2 separate regions of the Homo sapiens genome follow, and region 2 is linked to region 1. Evidence: fine-mapped expression QTL. A gene starts in region 1. The other region holds a variant in brackets. All regions are shown on one strand. Distances are from middle to middle. Region 1 holds the start of GAS1 (growth arrest specific 1). Region 2 overlaps LOC105376126 (a long non-coding RNA gene).

Region 1 (15,763 bases):
AAAAAGAATCCAACATTTCACATTTACACAAGCAACTTTTGAAGGTATCTTTATAAGAACTGGCTGTCAAAGTGCTTTCACATTTTAGTCGGTCTATGGAGTGTTAAAGTAATATCTCATTGTTTTCTAATTTCTTTTCATCTAACTACTAGTTAATTTAAACATTTTTTCACTTGTTTGCTGACAATTTGGATTTATGCTTCTGTGAATTGTCTGTTTCTATCTTTCACCCATTTTCCCTTGGTTTGTCCTTTTCCTGTTTTTTTTTGTTTTGTTTTGTTTTGTTTTGTTTTGTTTTGTTTTGTTTTGAGACTGAGTCTTGCTCTATCGCCCAGGCTGAGGTGTGGCAAAATCTCAGCTCACTGCAACCTCCACCTCCCGGGTTCAAGCAATCCTCCTGCTTCAGCCTCCCGAGTAGCTGGGATTACAGGCACCTGCCACCAAGCCTGGCTAATTTTCGTATTTTTTCTTTTTTTTAGTAAAGATGGGGTTTCGCCATGTTGGCCAGGCTGGTCTCGAACTCCTGACCTCAAGTGATCCGTCTGCCTCAGCCTCCCAAAGTGGTGGGATTACAGGCGTGAGTCACCGTGCCTGGCCCTTTTGCTGTAAATTTCTAAGAGCTCTTTGTTTACTAGAAAAATTTGTCTTTTTCATCCACTATCTTAGTTTGGGCTGCTATAACAGAATATCATAGACTGGGTGGCTTAAGCAACAAACATGGATTTCTCAGCGTTGACTACAGTTACAAAGAGTATGTGCACATAGAAAGGGGGCGGTGAGACTTTACATGTATTATCCAGGAGTAGAGCGTCAAAAGGGAGACTTTCTCTTGTAATCCCTTAAAGCTGGGGGACAGAAGCATTTCTCTGCTAAAGAGGCCAACATACCAAAGTCCCCGGAGAAGGGCAGGATGGAGATGCCATGGTGGATACTCAGAAGAGAAATTCCAGTTTGTGTGTATGTGTGTGCACGAATGAGTATGCGTGAGTGCATGCATGGGTATATGTTGTGCCTGTGTGTGCCTGCATGAGTGTGCACGTGTACATCCATATATGTATGTGAGTACATGCATCATATGTATGTGTATGTGAGTGCATGTGTGTGTGCACATATACGTTTGTGTTTGGGGGCACAGGCAAGAATAGATGGGGTTAAGTATTTGGAATGGGTCTTTCGAACTGCGTTTTTTTTTTTGTTTTTTTTTTTGAGACAGGGTCTTGCTCTGTCATCCAGGCTGGAGTGCAGTGGTGATCATAGCTCACTGTAGCCTTAACCTCCTGGGCTCAAGTGATCCTCCCTCCCCAGCCTCCTGAGTAGCTAGAATTATAGGCACGCATCACCATGTCTGGCTAATTTTTGTCCTCCCTCCACAGCCTCCTGAGTAGCTAGAATTATAGGCACGCATCACCATGTCTGGCTAATTTTTGTGGGTGTTCTTTGGTAGAGATGGGGTCTCGCGATGTTGCCTAGGCTGGCCTCAAACTCCTGGCTCTAGTGATCTTCTTGCCTAGGCCTCTCAAAGTTCTGGAATTACAGGAATGAGCCACTGCACCAGACCTCAAACTGCTGTAACACTGGTAGTGACCTTGGACTTTTTCCTGAGGAGTCACTATAAATTTTTAAGTGGAGTAGTGATTTCATCCGACTCATTTAACATCAGCATGGAGGATTGCTTTAGAGTAGTTATTCCAAAATGCTGTCTGAAGATGCAAAAGTTTCTGAAGAAGTTTCCCCTGTGTCGTAAATTCAGTTAAAATGAAAAAAAAAAAAATAGGACAATATAGTAAGTCCTTTAAATATCTAAATGTATTCAACTCGCCTGTATTCTCTGGTTATTCTTTCTCTGCCTTTGGGGTTTCAAATCCTCTTTATTTAATAAGACACTGGTGTTAACAGATGGTAGTAGTAGGTTTGTTTGTTTGTTAATGCTTGATAAAATAAAAAGTTGGCATCTTTTTTTAAAAGATATTCCAGATTTTTTTTGAAAATAAACGGATCTTTGAAATCTCAAAATCTAGCAACCACTGATGTTGAGTGGTTGAGGCAGAAATATGCCATTGTGTGTGTGTTTGTTTTTTTCCATAGTACACATTCCTTGGCCCCTGGGGAAGAATTCAAGTGTAATGAAGTTGGCACAGGCATATGTATTTTGAAAAAGCTCCCGAGTCCTTTAGAGATGCTTCTCTGGTTTACAATCCCTGGTTTGGAGGAGAGTTGGGAAAGACCTGGTATTCAGCAATGAAGAAAACCTTGAAGAAACCAGGACATGAGAAGACAGGGAGGGTGAATGTGAACAACATTTTTCTTAGATGGAATTAATAGGGCTCAAAGATGCGAAGATGGTCCTTGCCGAAGATATAAGCAAAGCTGGGGTTCAGGAGGAGGCTCCAGATCATTAGCTGGGAGAATGACCCTGCTTTACTGTGCATGAAAGGGATTTCCTTCTACATGAGGTTCCCATCCTTCTATCTTGTTCCCAAGAATTAATTCTTCTTAAGAAGGCAACAGACAAAGGGAAGACTTTTGTGAAGAATGAGGTAAACCTTCAGGATACAAAGTCTAATGTAGAATTCTAGAGTAGATGGTGCTTGGTTTCCATGCAGTATCTGCCACAAACTGAAGTATTAATATTTTCTGGTTTTAAGAATGCAAGTAAATAAAGAAAACAAGAGAGTGAATGTGATATGGTTTGGCTCTGTGTCCCCACCTAAATCTCATGTTGAATTATAATCTCCAGTGTTGGAGGAGGGACCTGGTGGGAGGTGATTGGATCATGGGGAAGGGATGGAGGGAGTTCCCCCATACTGTTCTTGTGAGAGTGAGTTCTCAAAAGATCTGGCTGTTTGAAAATGTGTAGCACCCCTCTCCTTTGCTCTCTCTCTCCTGCCAGCCATGTGAAGAAGTGCTTGCTTCCACTTGCCTTCAGCCATGATTGTAAGCTTCCTGAGGCCTCCCCAGAGGCAGAAGCCTATAAAGCCTTCTGAACCATGAGCAGATTAAACCTATTTTTTAAATAAATTACCCAGTCTTTATAGTAGTGTGAGAACACACTAATACAGGGTGTCTGTGACTTAAGACTTCTGCTAAGTGGTTAGAGCCTCTGACAACTCCAAATGGCCAAGTGACATATTGTTGAGTCCTCTGAGGGCAGAAGTCTATCTCCTCCTACTTTATCTGGGTTATGTTGCTAAAGCACCAAAAGGTAATTGGTATTTGTTGATTGAGGTTTTTGTTCTTTCACTGAACCAGTCAACCCTTTTGGAAATATAATTTTATATTTTAAAACTTCAGAACTATTCTGTATTCTTTAATCTCTCAGGGTCTTTATTACTGTTCTTTGTAGTAGAAATGATTTGGACTAGTTCTGAGTTGGCTGATTTAGAAGACAAGAAGTGCTGATTCTTCATTCATTCAACTTATCAAATATTTTATTGACACCTATGATGAGCCATTAATTGAATGTAGAATGTGAAGAAAAGGAAAGAATTCAGGCAGATACTAGCATCTTTCACCTAAGCAATTGGACAGGAAGAAAAGTTCTAATGCTCTATTGTTGCATAACAAACCATCTCAAAACTGAGTGGCTTAAAAGAATATTTTTTTGTTATTTCTCAGGATTCTTTGGGTTGACTGAGCTAAGCTCTGCTCTTCTTGCTTGAGGCAAGACCAGAACTAGAGAAAGGTGAGTGTAGTGTCTAAAGTACAAAATTTAAGGAGGCACTCACTCTTGGAGTCTTGGAGCCCAATTATGAAGGTCAATGCCTCCTTACATTTTGCACCAAAATGCCTCACTTGCTTCACGCTGATCTTGACCCTGGCTTGGGGTCTCTCTCATGTGTCTTCAGTAGGATGGCAGCTAGAGCTGGAGTCACCTGAAGGTTCAGCTGGGCTGGACATCCAAGTTAGTGTCTCCACTCACAAGTCTGGTGCCTTCTTCACTCACATGGCTGAAACAGCAGGGAGCTGGCCAGGCATCTCTTTCCTTCTCCATGTATCCTCTACACATAGTAAGCATGGGCTTCCTCACAGCATGCGAGTCTGAAGGTGGTCCAGATGTCTTACGTGGTGACTGGCTTCTGCAGAGCAAGTATTCCAAGAGGCCTGATAAGGTTTGGCTCTGTGTTCCCACCCAAATCTCATCTTGTAGCTCCCATAATTCCCACATATTGTGGGAGGGACCCAGTGGGAGATGACTGAATCATGGGGGTGTATCTTTCCCATGCTGTTTTCATGACAGTGAATGGGTCTCATGAGATATGATGGTTTTAAAAACAGGAGTTTCTCTGCACAAGCCCTCTCGTTGCCTGCTGCCATCCATGTAAGATGTGATTTGCTCCTCCTTGCCTTCCACCATAATTGTGAGGCCTCCCCAGCCATGTGGAACCCTAAGTCCAGTAAACCTCTTTCTTTTGTAAATTGCCCAATCTTGGGTATATCTTTATCAGCAGTGTGAAAACGGACTAATACAAGGCCCGAGTAGAAGCTGCAAGGCTTCTTGTGATCTAGCCTTGGAGGCCCCAGAATGTCAGTCACTTTCACTATGTCCTATTGGTCAAAGTCAGTAAGGCCTACCCAAGACTCAAGGGGAAGGGGATTATACTCTGCCTTTTGATCTGAGTAGTAAGGATGTAAAGGTAGGGAGAAAAGTGATGGAGACCAATTTTGGAGGGTATCTACCACAGTAAGCCCAGTAAACAAATAGGTTTTGGGGATGGAAATTTAGAAGTGCTCTTGGGGAAGCTTAAGTTTGAGATGTCCTTGGAACCAAGTGAATATATACATATGGAGATCAGAGAAAGACTGAGATTGAAAACATCAAATTAGGAGATGCAATTTAAAATCAAGGCACTAGATGTGGTTACCTAAGGAGTTGAGAGACAGAAGGAGCCACCAGGCAGTAAAATGAGAGAACAGGGGAGTATGGAGTTTCGGAAGCCAAAATTTTAGAAAGCGCTTTGAAAAGGAGGTGATCAGTCATGGCCAATGCTGCTGAAACGTCATATAAGCTGAGGACTGAGAAGTGACAATCAGGTAGAGCAAGGTTTTGGTCACTAGCGACTCTACATAATCGAATGGAACTCGATTATGTAGAGTGAATCGAGTGGGGAAAGTGAGTAAAAGCAAGATTTTCAAGTTTTCATGAAAATGGGATAGTGACTGAATAGGGACGTGGAGTCTAGAAGGTTTTACTATTATGTTTTTTTAAGATAGAAGACAGTATAGCCTATTGTGGTGAATGGAAATGACACAGTAAAAAGTGGGCTGAGAACCCCTCAGGCTTGCAATGCTAATGCTATGTGACTGGGATGCAGAAGTCCCCAAAGCATGCAGAGCTCTTGGGCCTCCCTTAAACCCCACTGAGAGCTGTATCAAGGCCAAGGTGGGGCAAGTGTTACCAAAAACACAGCAACAACACAGAAAAGAAACATGTTAACTTTGAGAGCAGTGATTCTCAAAGTTTGAGAGCAGCATTCCCTGAGAACTTGTTAGAAATGCATATTCTTGGGACCCACCAGTCCAACTAAATCAGAAACTCCAAAAACTAGGGATCTGAGTTTTAGGATACGTGCTAAGGTTTGGGTCCCACTATTCTAAAGGAACTCAACAAAAATTCAAGTAAAGATGAAACCGAGTGCTGACTTTGTTCCTTATGGGCCTAAAATAACAAAGCTTTAAAGACAAGAGGGGATTTTTCAATTGTCTAATTGGCTTCGAACCTTACCTGTGGAGGGATCCCAGACACAGAGAAGGTGTCTGAGTTGTCCAAGTCCTCCAGGCCGGACTGAGAGGACAACTCCAAATAATAGAGAAAAAAAAAGAGACAGAGAGCCAGGGATATGGTTGTTTTGATGTGCCATGAAGTTGCAGCCTTTCTGGATTTTTTTAGTATCGATTTATATTGCTGTTTGTCTACCAATACTCAAATCAGAGCAAGACGGTCCGCCTTACCTCAGTCTGGCTCTTTTAAGGTTTGATTTTGGTTTTGGGGACTGCAGAGGTGCAGCTTCCCACGGCAGACCAAGCGCCTCTGAGGAACGCAGCAGCTTCAGCAGGTACAGGAAGATTTCCCGCAGCCGGAGGAATCTCCTAGTGCTGGGCCTCCGGCTGTGACTTTTGCCATTTCAAATTCACTTGGCCTCTAGGGAGAGGCAGACAGCCCGACGCTGAGCGCGTCGGAGCCCCGGCTCCCTCTGCTTCTGGAGAGGAGATTTAGCCTTAATTTTTGTGACAGATGGAGTTGATAGTCTCTCCACGGAAAGGGGAGGAAAAAAGCGCCAGTTTTTGACAGGCCGCAGACGCCCGCTGCCTCTGGTGGCGGAAGGCTGCGTTGCGCCCCAGTTAAGGTAGCTCGGAAACTCCCTCGCCGAGAAGGCAGAGGTTTCCTCTGCAGAGCAGCCTCCCTTAAATATACTGAGGGGCTGAAACTTACACTTTAATATAAACCTTTGGTGCGTGCCCATTTATTCCGTCTTCTGTCCTGTGACTGCGGCCAGGTGGTAATTGCTCGACATTCCTGAATATTTTTAATGCTAGTTAAATTTTTTCATTATTGCACGTGTTGCAAGCTTATCTTCCTAAGAAATTATTTCGGTTGATTGGATTTCGGTCTTGCAATTTGAAAACGATGCCTGGCGCACGGGCGGTACCTGCCAGATGGCCTAGCTGGGGCTGGGGGGTGGCGGGCGGGTTGTAAGCATCTCATCAACATCTCCCTAATAAAGTGTGTGCTTCTTTCTTGTATGCTTCTTTAAAACAGTTTCAGTCTCACATTTTATCTCTGGATTCTCCCCTTCCCCTCTGTGGTGATCAAGACCCAAAGACAGGGAGCCTGGAAGATAAACTGAGTTCTGAATCCAGTCGAAAGCACAGATGGGGGCCAGCGAGAATTAATAAAACTACAAAAAAAAAAAAAAAGAAAAAAAAAACAAACAAAAAAGGCCCGTGGCTGAGCCGGATGCAAACAGCTGCCCCTAAGCCCTGCCCGCTGGTTCTGTGCGCGAGCTGGGGCTGCATATCCGAGCCTCCTTAAGAGTAGGAGGAGCTCCGGGCCTCCGTCAGGCTCCCTAAGCCGTTCCTTTCAAGCCCTGAATGCCTGAATGTGAGCTGCCCACCACCCTCCCGCCCTCCCCCACTCCGCAACCCCACTCCAGCGGCTCGTAAAAAAAAAAAAAAAAACTTTCAACAACAACAGGCAGGACCAATAGCATCTCGAAAAGCCGGGAAAGGGGGCCGAGCAAAGGGCGAAAGAGAGTGGAGAAAGGAGAAAGCGGGCAGGCTCGGAGCGCGCGGGGCCGGGGCTCGGCGAGCCGGAGGAGCGTTGCTAATGTTTTTGTTTGTTTGCTTTTCCATGCATGCATAATGAGGGGGCACCGCGGCACCACGCGGGGGCTCCCGGCCCACTTTTGTATTTAAAGCCTCGCTGCTAACGAGTCTGCAGCCGGGCTCAGCGGATCCGCTCCCCGGGCTCTTGGTCACCCGAGAAGCTGCCGCCGAGTGAAGCCAGGGAGCCGCTCTCCGGCAGCGCCGACTTTCTTGTTCTCCCCGCGCTTCCCGGAAAGAGCTCCCCGGAGCTCTGCGGAGGCCGGGGTTGCCGCGGGCGGAGGGGGAGGGGACGCGGGGCGGCCGGGCCGCGGGAAGGCGGGCAGCGCGCGGACGCCGGGCCAGGAAGCGGCGCGATGCGAGAGACCGCGGCGGCGGTGGCGGCGGCGAGGCACTGAGCCCAGGAGGAAGGAGCCGCCGCGGCCGCAGCGCGAGCAGCCGGCACGGGGACAGCCGGCCGCACAACGGATCTGCAGGCGCGGAGCAAAATGCACCCGCCGCGCCGCGCGGTCCTGCAGCCCCGCCACGGCCCCGCGGCCCGCACCCCCCCGGGGCGACAGTGAGCCTCTCCCGCCACCACCGGGGGCCGAGCGGAGGGCTCTCGGGTGGGAGAGCGGGACCAGATCTCGACAGCTGTTCATTTCCAGGAAGCCACCGCAGCCAGAGCGAAAGGGGACCTTCTGCCACCAGCGGGGCATCAGCCAGCGGCGCGCATGGATTTATGAAGACACTCATGCAAGAAGTGGGCAGGACTTGGACAAACTTTTCCACCGGCTCCGCGTCCGCCGCTCCCCGCGCCTCGTCTCCTTTCCCCTCCTCTCCCGGCGGCCGCCGCTGCCCGCGATGGTGGCCGCGCTGCTGGGCGGCGGCGGCGAGGCCCGCGGGGGGACAGTGCCGGGCGCCTGGCTGTGCCTGATGGCGCTGCTGCAGCTGCTGGGCTCGGCGCCGCGGGGATCGGGGCTGGCGCACGGCCGCCGCCTCATCTGCTGGCAGGCGCTGCTGCAGTGCCAGGGGGAGCCGGAGTGCAGCTACGCCTACAACCAGTACGCCGAGGCGTGCGCGCCGGTGCTGGCGCAGCACGGCGGGGGCGACGCGCCCGGGGCCGCCGCCGCCGCTTTCCCGGCCTCGGCCGCCTCTTTCTCGTCGCGCTGGCGCTGCCCGAGTCACTGCATCTCGGCCCTCATTCAGCTCAACCACACGCGCCGCGGGCCCGCCCTGGAGGACTGTGACTGCGCGCAGGACGAGAACTGCAAGTCCACCAAGCGCGCCATTGAGCCGTGCCTGCCCCGGACGAGCGGCGGCGGCGCGGGCGGCCCCGGCGCGGGCGGGGTCATGGGCTGCACCGAGGCCCGGCGGCGCTGCGACCGCGACAGCCGCTGCAACCTGGCGCTGAGCCGCTACCTGACCTACTGCGGCAAAGTCTTCAACGGGCTGCGCTGCACGGACGAATGCCGCACCGTCATTGAGGACATGCTGGCTATGCCCAAGGCGGCGCTGCTCAACGACTGCGTGTGCGACGGCCTCGAGCGGCCCATCTGCGAGTCGGTCAAGGAGAACATGGCCCGCCTGTGCTTCGGCGCCGAGCTGGGCAACGGCCCCGGCAGCAGCGGCTCGGACGGGGGCCTGGACGACTACTACGATGAGGACTACGATGACGAGCAGCGCACCGGGGGCGCGGGTGGTGAGCAGCCGCTGGACGACGACGACGGCGTCCCGCACCCACCGCGCCCGGGCAGCGGCGCTGCTGCATCGGGCGGCCGCGGGGACCTGCCCTATGGGCCTGGGCGCAGGAGCAGCGGCGGCGGCGGCCGCTTGGCGCCCCGGGGCGCCTGGACCCCACTCGCCTCCATCTTGCTGCTGCTGCTTGGGCCGCTCTTTTAGCCCTCGCGCCCCCCGCCGTTGGCTGCGGGAGAGCCCGCGTCCCACTCCCGTGCTCGCCTCGACCCCGCGCCGGGCACCTGTGGCTTGGGACAGATAGAAGGGATGGTTGGGGATACTTCCCAAAACTTTTTCCAAGTCAACTTGGTGTAGCCGGTTCCCCGGCCACGACTCTGGGCACTTCCCCTGAAGCTCCTCTCCGGAGCTTGACTTCTTGGACCTCCTCCCCCGCCCCAATTCCAAGCTCCAGAAACTCCCAACTCGTCTGCCGTCCAGAAAGCTAGCTGCAGTGTTCAGGACGTCCGGGAGGAAGCAAGCATGTGGGGGACAGAACAGTAGTCCTGGACTCGAAAGGGAAGGTGCTGACCAGTGGGGCCTTAGCAATTTGAAGGGTTGGGAAGGAGGAATTATATTTGCAAAGGGGCTGTCTATTAGCATATTTCCTTTGAGGGGGCAAAAAAAAGTGCCAGTATCGACTTTTACAGATTGTGGCCAGTGAGGATATTATAATCCTATGTAAACAGAAAAGTCCCACTTACCGATTCATTCTTTCACTGTTTGTATCTGCGCCCAGAATTCTCAGTGACGTGGGGGTGAGGGTGGGTGGCGATTGCCTTAGAGGGAACCCCTAAATTGGTTTTGGATAAGTTTGAGCCCTTGACCTTAATTTCATTGCTACCACTCTGATCTCTTAGCACATTTCTTAGGATTAAGGGTCCAAAAATGCTGATCTAAGGGGTTGCCATGGTGTTGAACAATGCAACTTTTTATTTAAAAAAGCTCTGCACTGCCATGTATGAAAGTCTCTTTATGATGTTTGTTTTTTTGTCATTTTTGTTCTTTACATCAAGAAATTTTATGTTTAAATATGCGGAGAATGTATATTGCCTCTGCTCCTATCAGGGTTGCTAAACCCTGGTACATCGTATATAAAATGTATTAAAACTGGGGTTTGTTACCAGTTGCTGTACTTTGTATATAGAATTTTTATAAATTGTATGCTTCAGAAATAATTTATTTTTAAAAAGAAATTAAAAGTTTTAAACTCACATCCATATTACACCTTTCCCCCCTGAAATGTATAGAATCCATTTGTCATCAGGAATCAAAACCCACAGTCCATTGTGAAGTGTGCTATATTTAGAACAGTCTTAAAATGTACAGTGTATTTTATAGAATTGAAGTTAACATTCTTATTTTCAAGAGAATTTATGGACGTTGTAGAAATGTACAAATGCATTTCCAAACTGCCTTAAACGTTGTATTTTTATAGACATGTTTTTTAAAAATCCTAAGTTTTTAAATAACTATGGATTTGTGTATTTTTTTTGGTTATTTGTTTTATTAAAACATGTACATCAGTAAAGAGTTTTAAACAATGAATATGGTGTAGTTACTTTCCAGAGTTACATTGTGGTTAACCCAATAATGGGTGAGGAGGGGGGTTGAGGGGGCACTGAGAATCTATCAACCATCAACTGAAATGAAAATACAGTACAAGACAAGAAATTATTTCTGCCTTTAATTTAATGAACAATTAGACATCTGTAAATGAGGCAGCCAAAAATATGTAATTGACTGGCTTCTATTGGTGTTTGCATTTGTGGAGAGAATTCACAAAATAGTGTCTCCTGTACATAATTTGAGGATAACTCAGACATGTTGCCCCGCCTCCCCCTTTTCCCCTGAGACCTCCCCTCTTTGTATCCCCCTTCCCATCACCCCTTACCCCCAAGAGTATCCTCTCTGGCTACTAGCCATTCTCAATCAAACATGCCAATAACATCTGTTACCAATAGGTTTTAGGAAGCTTGCAAGCTCAATACTTCAAAGTCATTTTCACACTTTTGGTGAAAAAGTACAAAATTTTGTTGCAAAACATTCAGACCAGCAAAAGTAAACACACAGGGGAAAGGAACAATCACCAGAACTTGTAATATTGTTGTGAGGAGTTGTTTAGCAGTGGCTGAAGGCTGGGTTCCTGCCAGAGCTACTGATCTACACTCAAACGCCCTTAGATAAATAATTACACTCTTAAGCTGTGTCGAGTGCTGATACACTTGACCTTGTAAATAGAAATGTTTGCAGTAGGAATAAACTCCGGCATTGGAAAATCTTTTAAACATTAACACAAAAGAGAGCGCTCTGTCCTCTAGGGATTTGAGCCTGAACCTCGCCAAGCTAGGCACTTGCAAGGGGGAAAAAAAGTTTATTTATCTTCTATTCCTGGTGTTTGTTTAAAGCTTTTCATTTTAAACGCGGTGATTGGAAGGCAAGTCGGGAGTTTAAAAGTCACCACAAATAAACTTTGTCTGAGGGGTCGACAGATTAGCAAGATCTGGTGTCTCTTTATTTGATATTAACATGTGCTGAAAAAACATAACCAGATTTCTCTGCTGCCTAAAGTAATTAACGAAGCTATGCCCCCATTCTGACTTCCTCATACCCACTCCCACCCCCCTACTTTTCAAGGTTTCTTGTGCTTCTAACTCGCTCTTTTCCCAGCTTTTATGGAGGTATTCAAGACACTTCTTGGTGCACCTAAAACCACGATTTCTATATGTATAGTATTAGAAAGTCTAAGATAGCTGTAGTGTCAGACTTAAGCCCAGGAGAGTGGTGTGTGGTTGGAATCTCCAGTCACCTGAATGGTTGAGTAAACATATTGTTAAAACAAAGCTGAGAGCGTTGTTTCTTTGGGAAGCGAACAAAGAGTATTCCCAGAGACTTGTAAATGAAATCAGCTTTCTTTACAAAACGACAAGTTAGCAGTGCTCCTGCGTTTGTCCTTAAATATATTTAAATCATCTCCATCTCATGTTATTTTAACACATGCTTGACTAAAAGTTAAGTCTTTGTCCCAGTAAAAGGCCCAGTTTTCCCCAGTAAGAAGTAAAAGGCATTAGCACTAGAAAAGGCCTGATAATTAACTGCTACAATAAACTCACAACTTGATTTTACAGGGTCCTGTCAAAAGCATCTGCCTGGAATAAATCAACACAACTCGCTCTTGGGGAGAGAGGACACGAGGCTTTATGTTTTCTTCCTTAAAGAAAGTGAACATTGATTGGTGGTCCATTTTAATTTAAACAATTATACACTGGAGCCCAGGAGTCCTCTGGTACCCCTACAGACCTAGCGGAGGTTGTTGAGATGTTAGAACCCTTTGGCTAGTGGTTATGAGATTGCATATTGCCATCTGCTTCTAAGCAGAAAGGATTTTTACAGATGTTGACATCTGTAATATCTCACGCTCTCTGGGGAGCCTTTTGGAATTTTGGACATTTGGCCATCTCAAATGTCCCATGGAGAATGGCTGGAAGTCCCATTAATGAAAGAAAAGGTATCTCTGGCTTTTCCTGGGGATTCTCAAAAAGCATCACCCTTCTAACAGAACTCTGCCAGAGTGAGAGGAACTCCTTCTAGATTTCATGTAAAATCATGAGTCCTCACGGCCTTTCCCATTTCCCCAGTTAGCAGGTTTGAATTCTCAGTGACAGTTTATTTGTCTTTGGAGGCACTTCAGTGACAAATGTTTAAGGGAGTGTGGGACAATGGTCGAGAACAAGGAGGCAGTTCATTGAACTGACAGTGACCATACAGTAAATAGAAGGAGGTTCAGGCTTCACTGCTCACCCGAGCACACAGCAACGCTTTTGTATATAATCACAATGGACATAACATAAGGTCCCTGTTTATTTTAAACAATATATAGCTATGTACGTGAGCAATACACGTATGTAAAGTGGAAACGTGTCTGTAGGGAAATAAGTTCTTCTACTAAGTAGCAGGACTTCTCTGTACTTGGACAGCAACGCTTCAAATGTCTAGAAGGATGGACACAGCTCCTGGCCCTGACTGCCACAAATTTAAGGGACCACCAGGCTCTAACACATCTAGGGTGCACCGCCATTCTCCAGATGGGGTCCCTGTGAGTGAAGACAGAATCTTTCCATCTCTCTGCCTTGAAGAGTCAGGAGAACCCTCATGGGAGTGAGCTTTCTCTGTTCCTTGCCACCATCTGTATTGACACCCTCACCCCATCCCAGCAATGTTACAGAGAATCAAATAAAAATAGATCCCCAAAATACAATGAGGACTTTCAGAAACCTCAAACATTGTATTAAAATTTTGTCTACTTTTAAACTTTGGCTTTGCATTGTTAGCTTGTTGAGTTCATTGTGGAGGCTCTCTAACAAAATAACCTCATGTATCTCTTTTCAACCCATAAAAAGAAAAGCCTGCGTTATTTGTGTTTTGACCTCTTACACCAAGGGACATCAGAACTCTTGCCAATTGACCCTGTTTCTCCCAGCTACTCAAAGCAAGGTTGTGGGAGGGCATCAGGTTGCAAATGCCTTGTGGCCAATGTAGTTAAGGAGGGTTGAGTTTCCAGTGGGTCTCGTTGCCTTGTGAGTGAAGTAAAGTTGGACTTTACTGTAGTCTATTTGAGAGATTGCCTCTGGAAGACAGTGGAAAAGGTTCACCCTTGACTATCTGAATGACATAAGTCATGTGCTATTAGCATAAATACCTTCCTTCTAAGCATCAATTTAATCAATTTCTTAAATAACAGAATGATCTACTACAAAATAGTGGACTGTATACACTATATTTTGGCACAAAGATGGTCATTCTCCCACTAGTAACCAGGGGCTCTAAATAAATGATTTCAACAATGTTTTATTAAAGGACGACAAGAGCCCTCGAGCTGCATTAATCGGGGAGAAGTCGAGTGGCACTTTTGTTATGGAAATGTTAAGCACATAATAGCACAGCCAAACAATGTGCAGCCACTTCATTCTTTCAGCCATGCTGACACCTCTTAAAGAGGAACTGCAGGGAAGGATGTGGGAAAGATTTGCTTTCCGAGGAAGCTTTCAGCTAATATTTTGGAGGGCTACCTTCAAACCCTGTGTAATATGCATGCAAGAGAATCCCGAAGGGCTGCTGAGATGCAGAAAGTGTTTTCTCCACTTATTTCAGGAGCATGGGTTCCATAATAAAATCAAATGTCTATGGTTTTTGATACGGTATTCACCAAAACAATACTTTACTGATTTTGTTGTTCTAAGAGTTCAATTTTATAAAGTTGATCAAAGACAGCTACTCTCAATGGTGCTGGTATATACTATAATTATCTATAGCATGTTCTCCTTAAGCACACAGATAGCATCTACACAATGTTGTCAAGGACATCTTCAATCTGTAATAAAAAATAAAATGCTATTATAGACAACTTTATGTTCTCTGGTTATCAGTATGTGTCCTTACAAGTTTATCTTTTATTTAAATTTTAGAAGTGCTATAGGATATTTACGGGTTCTTGGATACCAGAATGGGGTTAATACCACAACTAAATCTGATTGTATATTTTATCCCTGATTAGATGTTACTAAGCATCAAAATGAGGAACAATTTCAGTGAGATTTGAGGTCTTTGTCATAGACATTTCTTTTAGGAAAAATGCCAGCCTTTGGGTTTTAATCCATGTCACTTCTTACCTGCCAGTTAGTTTCACTGATGTGGAGCATCCTTCTGTAACAAACATTGAAGTGAGTTTTGCAAAGACTAAAACTTATGTCCATAATCCTGAACAGGTGCTGGGGGGTATAAAAAGAGTTCCAGAGGCATTTCCTGAGGGTGTGCTATGTGTGGGTGTACCCATGTGAATATGATACAGTCACGTCCATTGACAAGCTGACACTCAGAATAAGGAGATAGGCACACATAGAAACTTATTATATGACATGGCAAGCATAGAAGAGGATCACAGCACAATGCTGGGTTTAAGGAAAGCTTCTTGGAGAAGGTGACATTGAAGGTAAATCTAAAGACAGGCATGGAAGGTAGCCAAGAGAAAGGTGGGGAAGGCCATTGGATTAGAGGTAATAAAAGAGAAAACTTCAGTTGCATTAAATGTAAGAGTTTAATTAAGCAAAGAACGCTTTGCAAATTGGTCAGCCTCCTGAGCCACAGTAGATTGGGGTACTCCAGCGCAGCCACGTGCTGGAAGAAGATTTATAGACAGAAAAAGGACAGTGACATACAGAAAATGGAAGTGAGGGACAGAAACAGCTGGATTGGTTACAGCTCAGTGTTTGCCTTATTTACACACGGTTCAAACAGTTGGCTATACTGGATTGGCCGAAACTTGGTGATTGGCACAAGAGTAGGTTACGGTCTGTTCACATCTCCACTTGTTATGGTACAGGGAAACCTTTAGGCTGAACTTAAAATATGTAAGGAGACAGCATTAGGCTAAACTTGATTTAACAGGGAGAACAGCGTGACCAAAGGCATACAGGGATGAATCAGCATGGTGCTATGCATGAGACCACCTGTTCCCACCAAAGTAGAGAGTAGCAGGGGCCTGAAAGAATTGTTCATGCCAAGTCATCGAAGCCTTGAAGGACATGCTAGGCATAGACTTTACCCTACACAATGAGAAAGATTGGGAATCCTTGGGTGTTCCCAGCTGAAAGCTCAAAAGTTCACTTTTTTGCACAGAGCATATGTTAGCTGTAAGGGAAAAAGCCCAGAGATGAGAGAACAGTTCAGAAGC
Region 2 (15,763 bases), 320 kb before region 1:
CCTTTTTATCACTGCCTTTTCAAATAACCAAGTAATTGAAGTGCAGTTGTCTCCCACATTATGTAGGACATTTTTACTAGCCTTGATTATATTTCCATTAGACTTGGTGTAGCTGACTTAGTAACTAGGCCTAGGACAGCAGTGATGGATTTGTCTGATGGTCAGTCATTGAGTGTGAACTCATTGAAACCTTCCAAATATTTGAAATTTTTCTAGATTCAGTTTGGACTCGATGTTTGCAATGAAGCCATCTTTTAAATTCCCTGCCCTAAAGTGACCTTTTACTCTATGAACAACTCATGCTCAACAGGGCAGAGACATAGTGTGACTTCCTCTCTTCTCTACAGCAGCATATTTACCTGCGAGAATGCCAAAGAACAGGCAAATTTCTGCCCAGTAGAGTGATTTTCAGTTGATCAGATTCAGTGGGGACACATATACCTCCTCATGGGAGAAACAGTGATGTCTCTGGAGGAGTGTTCACAGAGTAAAAAAGTATATTCAACATAATTAATTTTTTCTCAAAATAAATAGCAAGAAGTAGAGGCTTTCCAAATCTCCTAGATGATAAGGGATCATGGATAACAGAAAATAGAGTGGGAAAATGTTATGGGACAGAGCGACCGTATGTTCATGTGTCCCAGTTTATACCAGTTGTTCAGGAATCATTATTTATAGCACCCCTTTTATTCTTCAAGTATTTGTTTAGACATTAAATTATATGATTACCCTAGTTAAACAGAGCTTGGGAAGTACTCATCTGATAGGATCTCCAAAAAAGTTCCCGTGGAGTCCATTTTTGCATTGCTGTAAAGAATACCTGAGAGTGGGTAATTTATAAAGGAAAGAGGTTGATTTGACTCACAGTTCTTCAGATTGTACAAGTCTGGCACCAGCATCTATTCAGCTTCTGGTGAGACCTTAGGAAGATTTTTCTCACAGAAGAAGGAAAAGGGGCAGCAGGCACATCACATGATGAGGGAGAGAGAGAGGGAGAGGAAGCAAGAGAGAGAGAGGAGGGGTGTCAGATTCTTTTAAACAACCAGCTCTCCTGTGAACTAATAGAGTGAGGACTCACTCATTACCACAAGGGCAGTACCAAGCAATTCATGAGGGATCTACTCCAATGACCCAAACACCACCTATCAGGCCAACTTCTGACATTGGAGGTCACATATCAACATGGGGTTTGGAGGGGACACATGTCCAAACCATATTAGCTCCTAAAGTTGTCCTCAAATTCAAGGTGCAATGTTTGAGAAGAGAGTTTGTGTTAGCAGAATGGCTTCCCAGCAAAATAAGTTTTGGTCATGCATGTTTTACAGGAGAGATCAACTGTGTTTGGAAGAGATCAGATAGTGTTTATGAGCACACTGCATGCCATAATTCTGAAGAATCCAGAGGTAAAAGGTATTTTACAAGAAACAAATATAGTTCTTGTAATGGAAGCATTTAGATGTCACTATGAAGAGGAGTGATGGAAATTCATAGCAAATATAAGGTAGGAATAGAAATGCTCAAAAAATCTATTAGGTGCTTTTTTTTTCCTGACACTTTGGATATCTCCTCTTTAATAATGTTCTTAATTACCATTGTCTTTATATTGTACAAGGTAGACAAGTTGATTCTAACTTGGTTCTGGCTTCCTTCTTCTGCAAAGAGAGAGAGAAATAGCTGAAGGTGAAGCCTTGTAGGTTTGTTGCTCCTACGTTCATTTGGGTCACACGGTGGCTTCTCTCTTGATTATGTGGAGGGCTTGGATTCTTCTAGCCCAAATAAAACTTGGCCACATACCTTTGCTCAACATGCACTGACCTGGGGGAACAATATGTTGTAACACAAGTTGCAATTAGTCATTATTTTTTCAGTTCCTGTGTGAGAAACTATGATTTTAACAACCAAAACAACAACAGCAGCACCAAAACAAGATAAATGTGTGTAGCAAATTTCCTTAAATGAGCATTGCCAGTATATTTTTCTCTTGCTAAATAACCTCCTCCTGGATCTCAACATATTATTCCCCGCCCTCCCTCATTTAATTCAGAAATAAGGGACAACCCTTCCGCAGCAGCTGTCCAGAGACCACCACAGCCTGTGAGAGTCTCCAGTGGACAACGGTTGTCTGATTGAGACTCTTCCTGGTGTGCTCAGAAAAACCTGTACTTTTTTTGTTTCAATTAGTTTTATAGACATTTCAAGCTGGGGCCTGCATTTTTTTGTGGTAAGCTCACCCCTCAGCACTCCCCATGGGGCTCACTAACCTTGGCTACCTTCATCGTTTATGGGAGTTGAGCTGTGCATGCTTGAGACTGCCATTTGTTTCTTCTTGCATTGAAATAACTTGCTTTTCTCTTTCAGCAACCCTGGGGTTCAACAATTTGAAACTGCTTCACACCAAGAGCAGAGAAACTCGCTCTGTGGTTATCACCTCAGAGAGACACAATACCCAAAACCTGAGAACATTCGCCTTGTTTTGTTGGAGTCAACACATCTGCCAGGTTATCTGTCTTCAGTCAACATGGCTCATAGAAATCCATGCTGAATTATTTTTTAGGAAGTTCGGTTTTGTTGACGATGGAGTTAAATGTTATTCGTGTTAAAGTGAGTCTTTAAGAAGATGGCCGGCTGTGTTTCTACATAGTTTTGACATCTGTCTTCATTTCTCATTTTTCCTCTAAGATGTTCTGCACATATTTGTCAATTTCTGTGGTCTGACTCAGAGCACAGGAAGTGTGGGTAAGTATCAAAAGAAAAATTCTTTGAGAATTTCTTTTGCTCATTCCCTGTTCTTCTGGTAAATGAATGCCTGAAAAGAGAAGGCAGTCAGTTATCTCGGTTTGGTTCAGGGTAACAGGAAAGTTGCCCTGAATTAAACATTTCTGTCCTATTGGCCAGCTGGGGCACTTAAAAATCCCAATCTTTAGACCACACTCTCTTAATTGTGGCATGTGGGTTTCTAGGAGTTGTAATTAAACAGCCCACAGAAGGTGATTTTACAGTTTCAGCTTTTTTTTTTTTTTTGAGATGGAGTCGCGCTCTGTCGCCCAGGCTGAAATGCAATGGCATGATCTGGCTCACTGCAACCTCCGCCTCCTGGGTTCAAGCAATTCTCCTGCCTCAGCCTCCCAAGTAGCTGGGACTACAGGTGCCTGCCACCATGGCTGGCTCATTTTTGTATTTTTAGTAGAGACAGGGTTTCACTATGTTGGCCAGGCTGGTTTTGAACTTCTGACCTCAGATGATCTGCCCGCCTTTGCTTCCCAAAGTGCTGGGATTACAGGCGTGAGCCACTGCACCCGGCCTACTGTTCCAACTTTTAAGTGTGTCTTCCTCTCCTTCAGATTCAGGCCCTTTGGCCAAGGATAGTGACAACTGATTAAGGCATAACAGGCCTCTGTCAAGCTGCTAATCAAGTTATGGGGCAGTAGGGACCAACATGCATGATGCCAGCAGCAGCCCAGGAATCTACCCACAGGTTAACCTCAGACTCTTAGGAAGACGCTGGGGCGCAGGATAATACAAGGAAGAGGGAAAGGATAGTGAGAAGGACCTATGTCACTCCTTATGTAATTTTCCCTAGTGTTGTCCAAAAAGAGTGTAGACAGGGTTTGTAAAAATATGCACCTGAAAAACCATGAGTGCCTTTATCTGTTGTTTAAAATTTACTTTCAATTTTTTTGGTAACAACTTTATTGACATGTAATTCCTATACTCCACAGTTTACTCACTGAAAGTATGCAATTAGATGGTTTTAGAATATTCATTCACAGAGTTGTTCAACCATCATTTAGGAATTTGCTCGCCTTTCTATCCTGCCATTTCCTCTCTCTGGAATGTTCTTACCCCAGTCATCGACTCTCTCCCATTTCATCATTTAAGTCTTTGCTCAAATGTCACATCCAAGACGCTTAGTGCTCTTCCCTTACCAAAATCACCACTCCACCCATTCTCCTGCCTCCCTCCTGCTCTAGTGTCTGGACAGCACATCCCCCTCTGCCATGTTCTCGTTTGTCTCCTGCCTGTGGTCCTCAGCTCCTCCAGGGCAGGACGTTTGTCAGGACGTTTGCTGCTGCCCCAGTTTCTGGGCTGGTGCCAGACTAGAATTAGGGGCTGGGAGGAGGAATGGAGGGGGCTGGCTGGCTCTCCTCTCTGCACCCAGCCCGTTGGAGGAGGGAAAGAGACTGGAGCCCTAAACAGACAGGGCTGGCTCCCTACAACTTGCTACTGGGTTGGCCAGGAACGGATGCTGCTATAGTCACCAAGCATTGGCTGAGGTGAAGTGCGAGGAAGCTCAGCATGGGCCTATGGGAACTTGAGCCATATAAATTTCTGTGTGAGCCCAAGAAATTATTTGCCATCTCTGAATGTCTTTAAAATGAGGACATTGGATCTCTGGCTCCTTGTAGTTCTGACACTGGAGTTCTGATGGAATTCTTTGATCAGGTGTAATTGAACAAATGCAGTTAAGGTGTCCCGGAGTGCTTTCTTTCATGGATCCCATCTCTCCAGCTACCTTTGCCACATTAAGCTGCTTATATTTCCTCCCTCCTCTCCACGCCCAATACACATGCTTTTGTAAAGACAGAGTTTTCTAATGCCTGGGGTCTTAGATCTATACGGCAGGAGAAGGGCTAAATAGAAAGTGTGATTTGGGTGTGCTATTTGAGCTGGAGCTAAATTTGAGTAAAAGCTTTGTCTGTGAGTTTACAAACATACAATTAAGGCTCTCACAGTTATCTAAATCCATTTTCTTGCCTTATAATTTTATGGTTAGAAGCATTACAGTTGTTTTTAGATTTTCATTATAACTGCAGTAGCCACAGACGGAACCAAATAGTGTTTGTTTATTTGTGTGACAAATTATGCCCCTCAGCTAACTATACTGTGTAATTTGCATTGGGTGTGTGTTTTGTGAAAGAAGTATACATTGGTCTGAGGGTCTTTTCTTCTCTTTCCTCTATCTTCTTCCCAAAGCAGTGCTGATAATAGAAAATTGGAAAATAAAAGGCACATTTGTGTACTACACACACGCTTGACTTCAGATTCCACTCCCCACCATTGTAGCTGGGTAAACTTGGGAAAGTCAGCTTATTTCCTCAATTTTTTTTTCACACAGTGAACTTTGTTCTTTTAAAATACCTTATTTACAGATCATCAGTAGGGGAAGAGTAATTTAAAGTATTAGGAACTTCAGGCCAGGAGCAGTGGCTCATCCCAGCACATTGGGAGGCCGAGGGGGGTGGATCACCTGAGGTCAGGAGTTTGAGACCAGCCTGGCAAAACCCCATCTCTACTAAAAATACAAAAAAATTAGCCGGGCGTGGTGGCGCATGCCTGTGGTCCCAGCTACTAGGGATGCTTAGGCAAGAGAATTGCTTGAACCCGGGCAGTGGGCGTTGCACTCCAGCCTGGGTGACAGAGCGAGACTCCATCTCAATTAAAAAACAAACAAACAAACAAACAAATAAATAAATAAAGTATTAGGAACTTCAGTGTCACTTGAAGGTTGATTAGAAATGAAAATCATTTCTGATGACTTAGGTACTTCCCAGCTATGAAAACTCCTGTAGTTAGTCAACTCTGCCTCTCTGCTTTTTCTTTAATTTGTTATTTTTTTTATTGTGGAAGAATACATATAACATAAAATTGGCCCTCCTAACCATTTTTAAGTGTAGAATCCAGTGGTATTAAACACATTCATCAAGTTGTGCATCCATTACCTCCATCCATCTTCAGGACACTTTTCATCGTGTAAAACAGAAACTCCACACTCATGAAATAGTAACTCCCCATTTGTCCCTGCTTCAAGCCCCTAGCGACCGCCATTCTCCTTTCTGCCTCTCTGATTTTAACTCTTCTAGGTACCAGGTATAAATGGAAGCATACTGGATTTGCTTTCTGTGACTGGTTCTTTTCATTTAGGTTCATCTATGCTATAAGCTGTGTCAGAATTTCCTTCCTTTTAAGACTGGTTAATACAATATTCCATTGTGGTATATCTACACTGCATTTTGCTTATCTATTCATCTGTCAGTGCACGCTTGGATTGCTTCCATGTTTCGGCTATTGCGAAGAATGCTGCCATGAACGTGGGTGTACAGATATCTCTTTGAGGCCCTGCTTTCTATTCTTTTGGGGATATACCCAGAAGTAGCACTTCCATATCATATGGCAACTCAATTTTTAACCGTATGAGAAACCACCGTACTGTTTTCCACAATGGTTGTACCATTTCTTTTTTGTTTGTTTTTAACTTTTATTTTAGGTTTTGGGGTACATTGAAAGGTTTGTTACATAGGTAAACTCATATAATGAGGGTCTGATATACAGATTATTTCATCACCGAAGAATTAAGCCCAGTACCCAATAGTTATCTTTCCTGCTCCTCTCCCTCCTCCCACCCTCCACCTTCAAGGAGGGTCATTGGACATTGCACTCCAGCCCTGGAAACAGAGCGAGACTCTGTCTCAGTTTAAAATAAATAAATAAACAATGTATTAGGAACTTCAGTGTCACTTGAAGGTTGATTAGAAATGAAAATAATCTCCGATGACTTAGGTACTTCCTAGCGATGAAAACTTCCGTAATTAGTCAACTAATTGACTAATTACAGGGTCTGTTGTTTCCTTCTTTGCATTCATAAGTTCTCATCATTTTGCTCCCACTGATTTGCATTTGAGTTCAAACAAGATAATTTCTGAACTCCTATTGCAAATTGCTAAATGCTGTCTAAATATCTACTAGAGATGATTAGAATGATGGTTAATAAGTGCTATATTTCACATCAGGTTAAAATTTCTTCCAAGATATCTTTCTTTTATCTGCATGTATAGAATTTAGATCTTAGCATGAATGGGGATGAATTTATATCCATCTGTCATCTGAGATACTCTATGTGAACAAGGACCACTGTTGATCTGGCTGACCATATAAAATATCAGATAACAAAACCTTGAAAACTCATATTGGGAGTGTATGCTTTTGTCTAGTGCTTCTGGTCCTTTTAAGCAGCCAACAAATTTGCATTGAGACCTTGCTGACTGTGGGTATCGGTGATTTTTGTCCATTGACGATTTTATCTTTAGTTGCTACTTCTTTGGTTTCAAAGAAC[T/C]ACATGTGACAAAAAGTGGCAATGTCTTAGGAAGTGGTTAAGCTGAGTTTATAAAAAAGGAATTGAAAATATGTAAACATTTAAGCAATTTGAATTGATTAGGAACTTGGATGGGGGTAGTGCTTCAGTTTAATATAACTCAAGAGTTCTAGATAAATCATAATTCTTTAGATGAAGGCTAGTTTGTTCTGGATTCCTGCTGAGATAAAATGATCATAAATTTACAAGTAAAGAATAATGTAAATACCTTAATGTCAAAGTATTGCTTTACAGTTCATACAATACTTCTCAGTAAGTTGTATCCTGAGAGATCTTGTTTCTGCTACATACCAGCTGATGACCTTAGCAATGACCATCAGGCTGTGGACCTTAATTTCCCCCACCCCGGTAGGGTAAGAGGCGTGGTCTGGGCTCATCCTTCCAGCAAAGCTCTGTCTAGCTAAAAAAATCTACAACCCTGGTAACTTCCACTTTTATTCTCTCTGCTTTGTAGATTAGAAATCAGAGGAGGTGTGAGTCTCTCATGATTGGATAGACTGATTTAATTACAATTCTTAGAAAAATATTAATGCCTTTCTTCCTCCATTCCCTGTGTTTTGGGCTCCTGCTGTGAGTCGGGCCTTCTCTAGTGCTGAAGACACGGAGTGAAGAAGGTGGCCTCTGCCCTGGCCTTCTCCTGGGCTCTGGGGTGAGCCGCTGTCCTGGATTGCTCTGGACCGAGGGGCTTCCTGCCCAAACTGGGAGAGCCCCGGGCAAACTGGGATAAGTAGGTCACTCTAAGTGGGAGATACTGAGCATAAATGAGTATTTTTTTTTTAAAGTGAACAGTTTCAGACAATGACCAGTGTTCTGTGGGAAACCCTCAGGATAATGCAGTGCTGAGCATTTTGGGGTGGGGGTGGTGTTGGTGAGCTAACAAGGCCTCTGAGGAGACCACGGATACGCTCCAGGGAAGAGGGATAAGGTGGATGGAGACCTGGTGAGAAATAGAATGTTTGAGAAATAGATCAGTGACCAGGATGAACCCTGTGAGCAAAATCGTATGTTCTGGAGGGAGGGAGAGGTAAGGGCGTTGTGGGTCTTAGTAAGGACCCCATACAATAACAATAGCTACTGTTACCTTCTGGCACTTCACTTACTTCATTACAACCAATTCATAATCACCCATTTTACAGATAAGAATACTGAGACATAGAGGCTTTAATGAATCGTATCTAACGTCATGCAGCTTGCAGATGGTGAAACCGAGACTTCAACCCTGATGTTTTGGTGCAGAACCCACAGTTGTCCTTAACTGCACTCACCTGAGGGGAAGCCCCTTGGCCACCGCAAAGCTGTCCCTATCCCTCCAAACTCTTCATCCCCACCGCACTCACAATCACTCAGGAATAAAGACCAGCTTTGTCATTTGCAGTCGCAGTTTTCACCAAGCCAGTAACGGCACTGGGGGAGGCCTCTGCTGCTTTTGTGGCTTGGTTCCAGTGCTGAATGGGGGTAGTTATAGGATGGCTTAGAAATAGTCACTCTGCGTGTAATCAGGTCACTTCACTGCAAAAACATTTTTGTTTCCGCTTCCTTCCTTTTCTGGATCTTATCCAGGGAACAGTGTCTCTGACCTTCTAAGCCACAAAGGCCAGAGATAATGGGGCACAGCAGGTTGATGTCGTGAAAGGAGGGGAGAGTCCGTGGTCAGGATGAGTGTGTGGGCACACACACACACACACACGCGTGGGGAGACAGTCACTACCCAGGGTGTACGTCATAACGTATGCTTAGAAAAATACTGCTAAGAAATACACAGAAACTTTCCTAGTGTCGAATTCTCTTTTGTGTGTCTGAGATCTCCCTTCGGGCTCAGAGTAGAGTGGAGGAGACGGGCATTCACTCTGGGCAAGTACAAAGAAAAGCACGTGAAATTCCTCCCCTTCTTGTCCTCATCCTCATCCTTGCAGCTCACATCCAGCGCCGGCCTGGGCTTCTGTGGTCTGTGTTGACTCTGATTGCCTTGCCAGATGTATCGGCAGTGTTGAGACTGGATTGGTTTACAATTTCTTTCAAATCTGCTTAAGAATGAGAGAGACCTTTTTCTATAGGGGAAACATAATGTGTTCTACTTGATTAGGGCTGGAGGTAAAAAATAAAAGCTATATGGAAAATTCAAAGGATTTAGGTTTTTATTCTAAATTTTAAAACTTACCCATAAGAGATTCGATGGAAAATAATGAGCCCTAAAAAAATATTTTCCAGAATCAATCATGATTTTTTCATGCACATAATGTTGGTTTAAGGCTTGGGAATCAAGAGAAAAATGCAGAAGGAATGTCATATGTTTTGCTTTACAACTTTCTCTCCTATTGTTTGCGTTTCACACTTTCACACTCAAATCTCTCTTCCATTATTCTTTGACTTTTATAAATCTACTGAACATAAATTCTGTTTAATTATAGCATGGTTCACGTGTACTAGAGAGTTATGTTAATAATGAAAATGCTGTTGATTAGTAATCAAAGACAGATTTCGTAAACAGAGAAAAGGAGGCGAGGAAAGGTTTGGGGTTCAGGAAGGAAAGCCTAACTTCCTTCCTCACCATTCTCCCACAGCTGCAAGGTTTTCCAGGTTACTGTGGCCAGGTCGCAGCCCTGTCTATGCAGTGATGTGGGTGTTGTGCTCTCTCTTTTTTCTGGTAACAATTTTCCCTCCCTCCGTGGCCCCTGTGGACACTGATGTTTGTGTCTCAGTTGGCCCTGGGGTGTGGTGGTGCTGCTGTGAGGAGCACTGGTCACAGCTGGCCTGCATCCTCAGCAGGTCCCCAGGGGGACTTTAGGCAAACCACTTAACCTCTCTGAGCCTCAGTGTTCTTACAAAAAGAAGATGCAGTAACAGCCCCAAAGGGTGGTTAGAATTATTTTAAATATCTCATGTAAAATGCCCAGTGTACATCAGGTGTCCTGCCATCAGAGGGACTCAATGATTTTGATTATTATTATAATTTTAAATCTTGACTGTTGATACGAAGTGAGAAACAAATGAAGTCAAGGCCCCAGGGCACTGCGTTTGAGGCTGTCGGGGCTTGATGTGGTTCCAGGTGTGGCAGGAGTGCTGGGGATGAGCGGGTACCAGGCTCCAGCCTGCCCTCCCCTTGCCCCATCTTGGCACTGTGACGGCTGGCAGCTGGGTTCCCAATCAGGCACTGAGAGGCCATGTGTTCCTTTGTCATAGGGCATGTCCACCTCTGGTGTGTGTTTAGCCCCAGGCAAATCTTGAACTAAGTCTCAGTGTCCCGGGAAAAAGAGCACTGGACTCAGAAGTAGAAGAAATGGGGCCGAGTGTGGTGGCTCACGCCTGCAATCCCAGCACTTTGGTAGGCCGAGGCAGGTGGATCACCTGAGGTAGGAGTTCGAGACCAGCCTGACAAACATGGTGAAATCCTGTCTCTACGAAAAATACTAAAATTAGCCCGGCGTGGTGGCACATGCCTGTAGTCCCAGCTACTCGGGCCCCTGAGGCAGGAGAATCGCTTGAACACGGGAGGTGGAGGTTAGAGTGAGCCGAGATAGCACCACTGCACTCCAGCCTGGGTGACAGAGTAAGACTCTGTCTCACAACAAAACAAAACAAAACAAAAGATATAGAAGAAATGGGCCCTAGTCCCATTCACAAGTCACCTTGGGTGAGCCGTTTCAGAGCATGGGTTCCTCTGATAGAAAGTTTACATTTTCATATACGTCTTGTGGTTTCTGAAGGGAAGTTAAATGAGAGAATATGTATGTGAAAATACTTTGCCTACTCAAATAATAATATCAGTGATCATAGAGGTTTTTGTTTTTTTTTCTCCCCAGGGCTCAGTATTCCCCTACTATCTGCTTACTGCCTTTCCAGATCCTCCCTTAAAATGCTTTGCTCAAACCTGTTACATCTTCAAGTTTTTTCAGCTTTCTTGTCGCAGGCTCCATTCCTAATTCATGCACATAATCTGCCATGTGCAGACACAGGCACATACTCATTCAACTTGTCCCATAATCTTTAGGGTCTTGCTCCCTGTTACTTAGCCTGAAGAGTAGCCTGACAATATTTTCAGAGCTACTGATGGGTTGATGTAACCCAAGATTGCCTGTGGTAGAGAATACTGCAGACTAGGGTTTGGCCAATTTTTTTTCAGTCAGGGGCCAGGTGGCTAGGACAGAGTTTTGGAGCAGATGAGGGTTTTGACGCCCCCTCTCTTCCGCCCTTCCATGACTGAGTGTCTCAACCTGGAGGTGCGGGTGGGGCTGTGTAGAGGCTCCCTGAGGAACGCAGGAGGTTGTTGAGCTGTTGATTGGCCTGAGGTGGCTTGAAGGATGGAAATTTACAAGTCGGCCAAGAGCCTTCTCTCTGCCAAGGACTGATTCAGAGTTCAGGGATTAAGCCTCTGGCATGGGGATTAAATTGGGATCTCACATGCACAGATCCCACGGGCACCAGATGCTGGGCTGGGTCTGGCACACGCACTGTTGGCTCTGAGAAGCTCCTCAACCCCTTGTGGGCATCAAAGTAAAGAAAGAAGTGAGTGGTCCCCCTTTTCTGCATTTAGCCTTGATCTGAGATGAGAACATTCATTGGAAACAACCAAGGAGCATGAAGGAATTTCTTCCCGAGGCCAAGAGTGATGAAACGGCTGAGTGTTAAATTTTCAGTAGGGATACAGAGAAACATGGGCACAAAACTCAGTTTCATCCCCACGGCTCTGTTCCACTGGCTCTATCACGCTGCTTCTTGTGGGCCTGGAAAATGTTCCCCACTTTCCGAAGAGCTGTGTCTTTGCTCAACATCCACATCCCAGCAAACGGGATCCATTTCAAAAGAGGCTTTTGATTACTCATTGTCATTTTTGAACCTCTTGTTGCTGTCAGTCATCAGTAAACAGTGCTCTTAGGAAAGCCCTAAGTAGGAGAGGTTGAAGACGATGCTGTGGGCTGGCACAGCTTTTTGTTTTGCACATGCGGAAATTGAGACTGGGAGTGGAATGTGAGCAGTTCAGAGTTAAACAACTAATTCGAAGTGAGTTGAGAACTGGAGTCCAGTCCTCTGGGCTTCTGTTCCAGTGTTCATGAGACAGAACAAAACTGCTGCTCTGTAATGATAAGGGTCATGGGGTTACAGGCACCAGTGGTTGATGTGAAACTGTATCACAGAAAGAAAAAGAATTTATTTTTGCTTTTTGACCTTGAGAGGTAAAGAAGTTTTCCCCACCTCTTGTAGATCTAACCTCATCAAATCATACAAAAATCAATTTTTGTTTACTTGCATGGAGATTATCTTTTCGTACTCATGTATCAGTCAGCATAGGCTGAGTTACATTGTGGTAACAAATGACCCCCAAAGCTTAGTGATTTTCAAACACAAAGTTGGATTTTTCACTCCTGCTATATGTGTGTTGGAAGTTGCTGAGTTTCTGCTGCTTATCTCTTTACTCTAGGACTGAGGTGGACAGAACTCTCTCAATTTCAGGGTTGGGAAATTGTGAGCTGTGGCAGAATCTGGCCTGCTATTGTCTTTGTTAATCAGGTTTTATTGAAAGATAGACATGGTTATTTGTTTATGTACCGTTTTCACACCACCACAACAGGATTAAGTTGTCATAATAGAGGCAGTATGGCCCACAATGAAGATAATCTTTACTTTCTGACCTTTTACAGAGCAAATTGGCTGATCCCTGGTGTATCTGAAACATGGTGATCTGTGGCAGAAGGAAACGAGACAGAGCAAACTGTAGGCTGGTTCTCAAAACTTCTGCCCAGAAGTGACACATGGTCATTTCTACTCCCATTTCTTGCACTAAAGCAAGACATGTGACATGTGGCCCCTCTTGATGCCAACAAAAAAGGGGCAGGAAATCAGCTGATTCCAACATAATTTGTATTTTATTTGTATCTGTGTCTGTATTCTTGGTTGCAAACAACAGAAGTGTACTGTGTTTAATTTAAAGAGAAGGAATATTAATGTAAAGGTTATCAGGGAATCATGCACTTGAGAGGAAGGCTGAAGAAGGGGCCTCTGTGGGGTGCAAGGACACAGAGCCACAGTCCCACTGGAGGGACGGCCTCCGTAAGCTTGCCCTCTGGCATTGCCAGCAGTGGCCCTTCTCCACAGCACTGCTTGTATCTCTGAGGCCACTGTGAGTAACTTTAATTGAACTTTAGCCTGGATGTTACTCCTTCAAGATTCAAAGTGCTGGGTGGGTACTGTTTGTCGACCACCTTTAAAGCATGTGGCCATGTCCTAGCTGCTGGGAGGGTTGGGGAGATGAATAGCAAGACTTTTTCATCTTGGTAGGAGGAAGGGGCCCTGCTTTCCCTAGAGACTTATGAGTGGAGGAATCTCATCAACATAAGAGGCCACGCTAAGAAGCCTGGGAAGCCTAGGAAGCCCTGTCGTTGTTCACGCGAATGGTCAATTGCTTGCAGTTGGAAGCTGAGTGGGAAGTCTGGCAAACGTCGGTATTGCTTGTGCTTCAACTTCTTAAGTGACATTTTCCTACAGGACGCCTTCAGCAGGGAGCCTGGAAGGATCAGAAGAAGATGGGAGAACTTCCTTCCTGCTGGTCACTTAGGAGCCAGAATGACCTTTGTTACCTGGACTTTTCCTTTTCTCCTCCTCATCATTGTTCCATCCCCACTAAGACCTTCATTATTTTGGAAATATTAAGTTAGAAATCTAGTCATGGCCAGCATGAGAGAGGGACAGGGATGCATACAGGAATCAAACTGAATACATTTTGTGTTTTCATTCCCCGTAGGTACTTCTGCTGGTGTCAATCATTGGGACTGGATTATGTCTAAGCATCTTCAACCTCACAGGGGTAATTTGAAAAGTTGAGGAGGGGTTTGCTTTTGAAGAGATAAGCTCATATAATGCAGAATCCAGCCTTTATGGGGATCAGGGGGTCACTCCAACCATGGCCTTCACAAACGGCCTTCAACTGTACCCCTTGGGTTCATATCCAAGTGAAATTATTAGTCTAAATGATTGAAAGATAATAATATCTATTATACAATTAAAAACCTGTATCCCCTCCCAGATCATACACCTACAAATTCATGTTTTAAACTAATCTTCCATGTGGTGAGTGACACAATTATATTGCGTCATGCTTTTTTGCATTAAAAATATTAACTTGTGGCTGGGCATGGTGGCTCATGCTTGTAATCCTAGTACTTTGGGAGGCCCAGGTGGGTGGATCACAAGGCCAGGAGTTTGAGACCAGCCTGGCCAATATGGTGAAACCCCGTCTCTACTAAAAATACAAAAATTAGCCAGGCGTGGTGGCGCCTGTAGTCCCAGCTACTCGGGAGGCTGAGGCAGGAGAATTGCTTGAACCCGAGAGGTGGAGATTGCAGTGAGCTGAGATCATGCCATTGCACTCCAGCCTGGGCAACAGAGTGATACTCTGTCTCAAAAAAAAAAAAAAAAAAAAAAATTAACTTCTGGCCGGATGGGGTGGCTCATGCCTGCAATCCCAGCACTTTGGGAGGCTGAAGCGGGCAGATCACCTGAGGTCAGGAGTTCAAGACCAGCCTGACCAACATGGTGAAACCCTGTCTCTACTAAAAATACAAAAATTAGCCAGGCGTGGTGGCGGGTACCTGTAAACCCAGCTACTAGGGAGGCTGAGGCAGCAGAATCACTTGAACTCAGGAGGCAGAGGTTGCAGTGAGCCAAGAGCATGCCACTGCACTCTAGTCTGGGTGACAGAGTGACACTCCGTCACCAAAAAAAAAAAAAAAAAAAAAAAAAAATTTAACTTGTTTGATGCAAGTATTTTAACCTCAATTTTTAACCCCAATTTAGTAATCCTTTTCTGTGTGTGTGTGAGTGTAGAGCCTCAGAATATGGATGTGGCCTGGAAAATTCTTGGCCTTTAATGCTTTCCTATCTGAGCTGACTAGAGAGAAGAGATCTGGATTCTCTAAAGGACATGAAGCCCAGGAGCAGGCAGAGCTAGTGTGATGTTAGAATTGGGAGTCAGGGGTCTAAGGACTTGAAAGTCTATTTTTCAGGATTGAGTGTGGATGTGGATTACGAATGACTGCCTTGTACCCAGTCAATGGTCGAAGGCTTTCCAAAGTGCCAGACACTGGATGGCTTGTCGCTGCACTCATTTGGACATAACCCATGAAAACCATCTTTTTTTTTTTTTAATTATACTTTAAGTTTTAGGGTACATGTGCACAACATGCAGGTTTGTTACATATGTATACATGTGCCATGTTGGTGTGCTGCACCCATTAACTCGTCATTTAACATTAGGTATATCTCCTAATGCTATCCCTACCCCCACCCCACAACAGGCCCTGGTATGTGATGTTCCCCTTCCTGTGTCCATGTGTTCTCATTGTTTAATTCCCACCTATGAGTGAAAACATGCGGTGTTTGGAAAACCATCTTTAAAGTCTCCACTGGTTATGTCAAACATGTTCAAAAATGACTAAAAGAAGATAGTGTATCTGAAGTTGGTATTTTGTCAGCAGGTCCCCATGCTTTACGGATCGCATGGTTTTTGTAAGATGGTGGCTGGGCACTGGAGGCAGGGCTGGATCCCAGGGGTCAACAACGACGCAGCAGCCTTCCTATGGCTGTATAATGTGCCATGGCCGGGACAGGCGAGGGCAAGCT

Evidence for each region.
Region 2: its variant is fine-mapped to the expression of GAS1 in whole blood (TOPMed, PIP above 0.99). The same link has a PIP of 0.9 or more in blood mononuclear cells.

Annotation. Positions count from the first base shown.
Region 1 is chr9:86,939,180-86,954,942 of GRCh38, reverse strand. GAS1 (growth arrest specific 1) reads left to right here and starts at 7,437. Exons shown (of 1, transcript NM_002048.3): 1 at 7,437-10,581. The coding sequence starts at 8,164. The coding sequence ends at 9,201. GAS1RR (GAS1 adjacent regulatory RNA) reads right to left here and starts at 6,245. Exons shown (of 7, transcript NR_049794.1): 1 at 5,950-6,245; 2 at 3,944-4,076. RefSeq lists silencers at 8,227-8,306, 8,377-8,446 and an enhancer at 13,522-14,222.
Region 2 is chr9:87,263,616-87,279,378 of GRCh38, reverse strand. It overlaps LOC105376126 (a long non-coding RNA gene), which reads left to right. Exons shown (of 15, transcript XR_007061642.1): 4 at 1,326-1,501; 5 at 1,613-1,690; 6 at 2,359-2,498; 7 at 2,680-2,736; 8 at 13,887-13,949. Among named protein-coding and RNA genes, the nearest start is that of LINC02872, 120 kb to the right of the region's middle. RefSeq lists an enhancer at 1,783-2,982. The variant T/C (reference allele first, on the strand shown) is at 7,112.